Linked DNA regions of Homo sapiens: region 2 is linked to region 1. Evidence: fine-mapped QTL for protein levels in blood plasma. A gene starts in region 1. The other region holds a variant in brackets. All regions are shown on one strand. Distances are between the middles of the regions.

What was found. PIP is the posterior inclusion probability: the model's chance that the variant is causal. Protein levels are from antibody-based Olink assays in UK Biobank. Linkage for the fine-mapping came from a reference panel and not from the study's own genotypes, which makes the PIPs less certain.
Region 2: its variant is fine-mapped to the plasma level of the FBLN2 protein (UK Biobank, PIP above 0.99).

What each region holds. Positions count from the first base shown.
Region 1 is chr3:13,548,502-13,551,381 of GRCh38, reverse strand. FBLN2 (fibulin 2) reads right to left here and starts at 2,257. Exons shown (of 18, transcript NM_001004019.2): 1 at 2,174-2,257. RefSeq lists enhancers at 1-285, 286-894.
Region 2 is chr3:13,569,502-13,572,332 of GRCh38, reverse strand. FBLN2 (fibulin 2) reads right to left here. Exons shown (of 18, transcript NM_001004019.2): 2 at 672-2,018. The coding sequence starts at 1,977. Among named protein-coding and RNA genes, the nearest start is that of FBLN2, 22 kb to the right of the region's middle. RefSeq lists enhancers at 148-864, 2,469-2,831. The variant A/G (reference allele first, on the strand shown) is at 1,983.

The DNA.
Region 1 (2,880 bases):
GCATGAGCTCTTGCTTCACGGGGTCCCCATACCACCGTCCCCCACAGCCTAGCAGGAAGTGTCTGCCACCATCACAAAGATGCCCTGTGGCCCAGGGCCCTGGGCACCACTCATTGCTTCAACGACTAAGGCCTCGAAGGGTAGGAGGCCCGCCCAGGGCTTCCCCAGCCATGCATGGAGGACCAGCCTGGGCCTATGCTTGAGGCGGGCAATGGAGCAAAATCAGCCCAATGCATGCAGCAGTCACAGCCGCACAAAGGCCACGCAGGCCAGGCAGGAGCTGAGAAGGCATGAGAGGGCCAGGTGGGGACGGGGACCAAACAGCGCCCCTGCCCCATCCCCTGGGTTGGGGGTGGGCAGCACCAGCCAGGAGATGCAGATCCTGAACTACCAGACCTTGTGACTTTTCAAGAGAAGACGGAAATCCGGACTTTTACGTGAAAACTGCCAATTTGTAAATGCAGGCAGCTAATTAATTTTTTAAAATAATAATAACATGGTGAGAGCCAAACAAAACATGCAGGGCCAGCCACAGCCGGGGCTGGCAGGTTTGTGCCTCCAGAATAAGATTCTTTGACTTCATCCCCTGCTCACCCCCATCACACAGCTCAGCTGCAGAAGGGGAGGGCGGGAAGTCAAGGGTGCACCCCAGGGGAGTAGCTCCCCCTCCCTCTCTTCCTCCTGCTGGGGAGTCTTCACCCCATTTGGCATATGGGGAAGTTAAGGCCCAGAGCCCCTATCAGCCACAAACACACACCAGCTCCCAATCCATGCCAGGCTGAGGGAACACTTCTCAGCTGCCACCCAATTCATCAGGGCTCCCTCTGGGAGGGCCCGGACCAGCATCTCAGGGGCATCAGGGTAGACACAAGCACCCAAACCATCCTGTTTGACTTCCCTTTTTCTCTTTTTGGCCTGTCAGGGGACGCCTGCTGGCTCAGGCCTGCTTGGGACTGGCCCAAGTGATCACTGCAAAGCTGATATGGGCAACTCCTTGTGGCAGCAAAAAAGGGAGGGAGGGCACCCCTATTTCGGAGACTGGAGCAGGGGAAGGGAGAGAGGATGCACGGAGGTGAGGAGTCAGGCCCAGCCTGAGGCTGAGCCACCCCCATGCTCCCCACAGCCACCCAGGTCCCATGGTAAGCAGCCTCTGTCAGGAGGAACCACCTCCCTCCTCCAAAATCGGCTCCCCACCCCCTAGGACAGGGGAGGACTGCCCATGGAGTGCCAGGGGGGCTGGGACTGTGAAGTCGTGGGGGTCTGTGACTCGTATGTGAGACTCACAGTGTGTGGCACTCCCAGTGTTTGTGATTCCAGGTATTTGAGGAGCACACGCATGTGAGAGACACATGTGTGATACATATGATGGAGATATGCATGTGATAGCTACCCCTGTGTGGCGGACGTGTGTGCGTGTCAGAGGGCAGTAAGGGCACATGTGTTTATCAGAGACACAACTGTCTGCTAGAGGCATGCCTCGGAGGGGTGCCAATGTGCAAGGCATGTGTGTGTGGAGCATTGTGTGCTAAGGGGACGTGAGATGAGTGTGAGAGATTCTGGCCTGGGGGAGCTGGCGGGGTGAGCATGGGGCTGGGAGAGGGAGGATGTGGTGACAGGCAGGGTGGGCGCGCCAATGCAGAGCGTGCAGAAACTTCTGCTTGTGTGAGTGCGTGTGTGGCGGTGAGTGTGACTTGGGGGTGATGGAGGGGGTAGTGTTAGACCAGGGACTCTAGTCTTCTTTCCCCGAGGGGGTTGACCCGGCCCTCTGGACTGGAGGGGCGGCAAGGTCCTGCGGTCGGGGTGGGGGTGGGCAGTGGGACCAGAGGGGATGACTGGTGGGAGCCGGCCCAGGGGGGAGAAGTGAAACCCAGAGCGGAGGAAGCTGCGGACCTGGGGTGGGGGAACCCGCCCGCGGACCCCTGGCCCCCACCCCGCGCCGGCCTCTGTGCCCGCATCTGTACACTGGGTCGCGGCGCTCGCGGGCCGTCCCCGCGCTGGGACCGGGAGAGCGAGACCCGGTCGGACCGGCGGCGCGGGTGGAGGCGCGGGCAGCCCGCGAGGCGCGTCCGAGGGTCCGCCGAGCCGTCGGTGCGTCCGAGCGCCCCCGAGTCCTGAGCTGCGAGGCGCGGACCGACGGGGATGAGTCCGGGCGGGAGGGGCCGCGTGCACTCACCGCGGGGCACTGCGCTCGGCGTCCGTCCGTCCGTCCGCCCGGCCGTCGGCGCGTCGAGAGCCCGGGCGGCCCCTGGCTGTGTGCGCGCGGGGCGGGGCGGAGGCGCGAGAGGCGGGACCAGCCGGCCCCCGGCCCCCTCCCCTGACTCCGCCTCCGCCTCCGGGGCGGGGTCTCGGCCGCCCGCCGGAGAGGGGGCCGGGCCGGCGCCGCTCGCTCAGAGCCCAGACTCGCTGACCCGGCTCCTAGAGGCCGCCCGGCGCGCTCGCTGCGGAGCCCGCACCCTCCCTGCGCCCGGCCTAACCTCTGAGTGCCAGACCTGGCACTGCTGCCCACAGGGCAGGGCCAGGGGTTGGGGTCCGGCCACCTCAGCCAGCCTGAGCCTCAGTGATCACCCCTGGAAGATGGGCCCAGCAGCCTTGGGCACATTGTGAGGGCCTGAGGGGCCCGGCTACAAAACTGCCCAGAGGCCAGGCCCTGCCTCCCACCCGCCTTGCTTCCTACCCTGGGGGCCTGCCTGCAGCCCCACTGCTGCTGCATGTGCCTGGGCAGACGGTACTGAGCCCCCAGCTTTGGAACAGGTTCAGTTTGTCCTTTTCCTCAGCCCAGCTCTGATGCCTGTGACCACTGTGTGACCCCCGGGGTGTCTCTTCCCCCAGCCCACACCGATCCCTTTCTGGGTCTCTTTCGGGGTCTCCATCTCTGATCTA
Region 2 (2,831 bases), 21 kb before region 1:
ACCAGCTCGGAGAGGGGCCTCCATGGAGTGAGGGTACAGCTGGTGTGGCCCCACCACCTCCACTGGCCCAGCATGGCCAGCGCCCCTGCTCAAATGGCCCACCCACCTCGCCTCTGTCCACGAGTTCACTTCTTTCTACAACACATGCTTGTGAGATTAGGATTTGCTGCAGACACTTAGAAATGGGAAGATGTCACATAAAATTCAGCTTTCTGGCTGACATTTGTTGAAAAATTGGCAGAGGTGGCCATGCTAGGCTCCTAGGCCACAGGCCAGCCACCGGGGCAGCTGAGAAGAGACCGCCCTTCGCATTTCCTGCCAGGACACGTGGGGGCCTACCGGGCTGAGGCAGGAACCCTCCTCAGGGCCCCCAGCTCTGAAGATGTGCACCTTCTGGACCCTTGACCACTACCGCAGCCCTACCAGGGGGCCCAGCACCTCCCACAACAGGAACCCCACTCCCACCCACCCATCCCATCCCAAGAGCTGGGCCTGGGAGAAGATGCACTCTCACAGCCTCCTGCCCAAACCAAGGGCCTGGGGTGGCCACCCTAGGCCTGGCCCCACAGTCCAGCATCCCCAGCCCCAGGCAGAGACCTGGGGCAGCGGCCAGAGCCCAAGGCTGCCCTTCCCACACAAAGTGCCCTGAAGGAACCAGGACAGGGTCTTACCTTCAGGGCTACTTCTGGGGATAGAATGGACAGAGTTGGGGTCTGTGTCCTCCTCCACGTGGGAATGGGGCAGAACTTGCGGCTTCCTGGGCACTTCTCGGGTGGGTGGGATCCAGGCTGCATCAGGCAGTGATGTGGACAGGATGTTGTGGGGGCTGGGCTTGACTGGGTCCCTGGGAGAGCCAGGCACGGCCTGAGTTGGGACGAGAGCAGCCTTGCCCAGGCTCGGTGCATGCGTCACGCCCTCCGGCCCAGTGCTGCGGGACGTGGCTTGGGCATCCAGGATGAGGTTCTCTTCAGGCCTTGCCCCAGCTTCTGCCCTTGCCCCAGCTTCTGCCCTCTCCTCCTGGATAGGAAGACTGGGTCCAGCTGGGGCTGTAGTGGGCAGCCCATCCAGCCCCCTGTGGCCACCTGCTGCCAGCTGCTCAGTGACAGCCATTTCCTCTCTCTCCTCCTCCTCCTCTTCTTCCTCCTCACTGTCCTCGGTCACTCTCCTAGCTTTGGCCTGCACTGGGGCTGGGGGACCCAGGGCAGCAGCCGCTGTGGGCCTGGGGAGGACAGCTGGCCAGGGGGGTGCCTGGATGGTGGACAGTGGCTGACTCCCACCTCCCAGAGCAGCTGGGGGGCCCCCTGCGCCTGCCTGGACTGCACCCGCCTGGACCTCACCCCCCAGGGCTGTTGCTGCTTCCACCTCGGCCACCTCCTGGTCATAGCTGTAGGGGTCTTCGTAGTGTCGCTCGGGGTCACCCTCCTCGGCATCTGAGAAGTTCCCGTGGCAACCGGGGAGCTGGTAGCAGATGAGCTCTCCACCGGCGTCAGGGCAGTGGCAGGCCCGGCAGGGCGGCAGGTGAACAGTGTGGCCAGCGGCGTACTTGTGGCCCGCGTGGACGCAGCCCACCTGGCCGCACTGTGGGCAGCTGTCAGCCACCACTACAGCCTCGATGCAGTTGGGCGGCAGCTCCGGGCACAGCATGAACTGGCAGCTGATCTTGCCGCCGCCTGGTGGGCAGGAGCACTCAGTGCTCCCGAAGTCCACAAAATAGGACTGACCGGCGGGCACGCGGCCGCGCACGAAGCCACCCTGTAGGCAGTCATAGTACTGGTAGCCCTCGCAGGCGCAGCCCTGCTGCACACACGTGGCACAGCAGGCACCCGGCTCCAGCGCCTCCTCAATGCAGTTCTCCAGCGGCGGGCACTCCACGCCCGTGCAGTCCTGCCGAGGGGCAGCTGCGGCCACGCTGGGGCCCAGGGCCAGGGCCAGGCCCAGAGCAAGCCAGGCTCCTGCAGGCTCCCAGAGCAGCACCATGGTCC[A/G]GGCCAGCCCAGGACGGTCCCCTCTCCTGTAAGACCCTGGGGGAATCAGAAAGGAAGCCTGTCAGTACTGGGTGTGCACACACAGACACGGTGCACACCGGCACGCACGCGGGCAGGGGCCCAGCCTCAGCCACCTCACACGCATGCGCTCATCCCCAGGAGCACACTAAGCACTGCCTCACACACACACACAGGCTCCGCCACACATGGGTCAGATCACACACAGGTGAGTGTCTAGTCGCTGGGCGCCACAGGTGTTGACCTGGAGTCGCTGACAGCCCCACACGTGTTTGCTGGGCCACTCCATCCTCCATCCTCACCTGCATTCTGAGGCAGGTCCTCTGAGTGAGCCCTCGTGCCCACACACACACATGCACAGCCCCACACCCACTCGGTCACACTCACCAGGGCACGTCAGGCAATATGCCCCATAATCCTCTATGCAGTTACACACGCTGTCTCACCCACAGCATGCCCACGTGCCAGTACACACCCTGGGCGGTCTCACACGCACAGTCCCACGCACACACCCGACCAATCCCTCCCCCCAGATCCTTGACTCAGTCCCCAGCCACGCACCACAGCTGCTGGCCAGAAAATACAGTCAGTGGGGAAATGCTAGGCAAGAACAAGACGCCCCCTACAGCCCCAGCCCGCAGACCCTAGGACTCAGGAACACACCTCTGAGACCCTCGGGACTGCAGGCTTAGCCCCAGGGGACGCTCCTGTCCCCCTCCCCAGTAGCACTGGCAAATGCATCCTGATGCCTTGCTGTCCCTAACACCCCACCAACTCCCCCAGTCATGTCCATTCTCCCCGCAATCTGTCTCCACTCCCTCCCCACGGTCT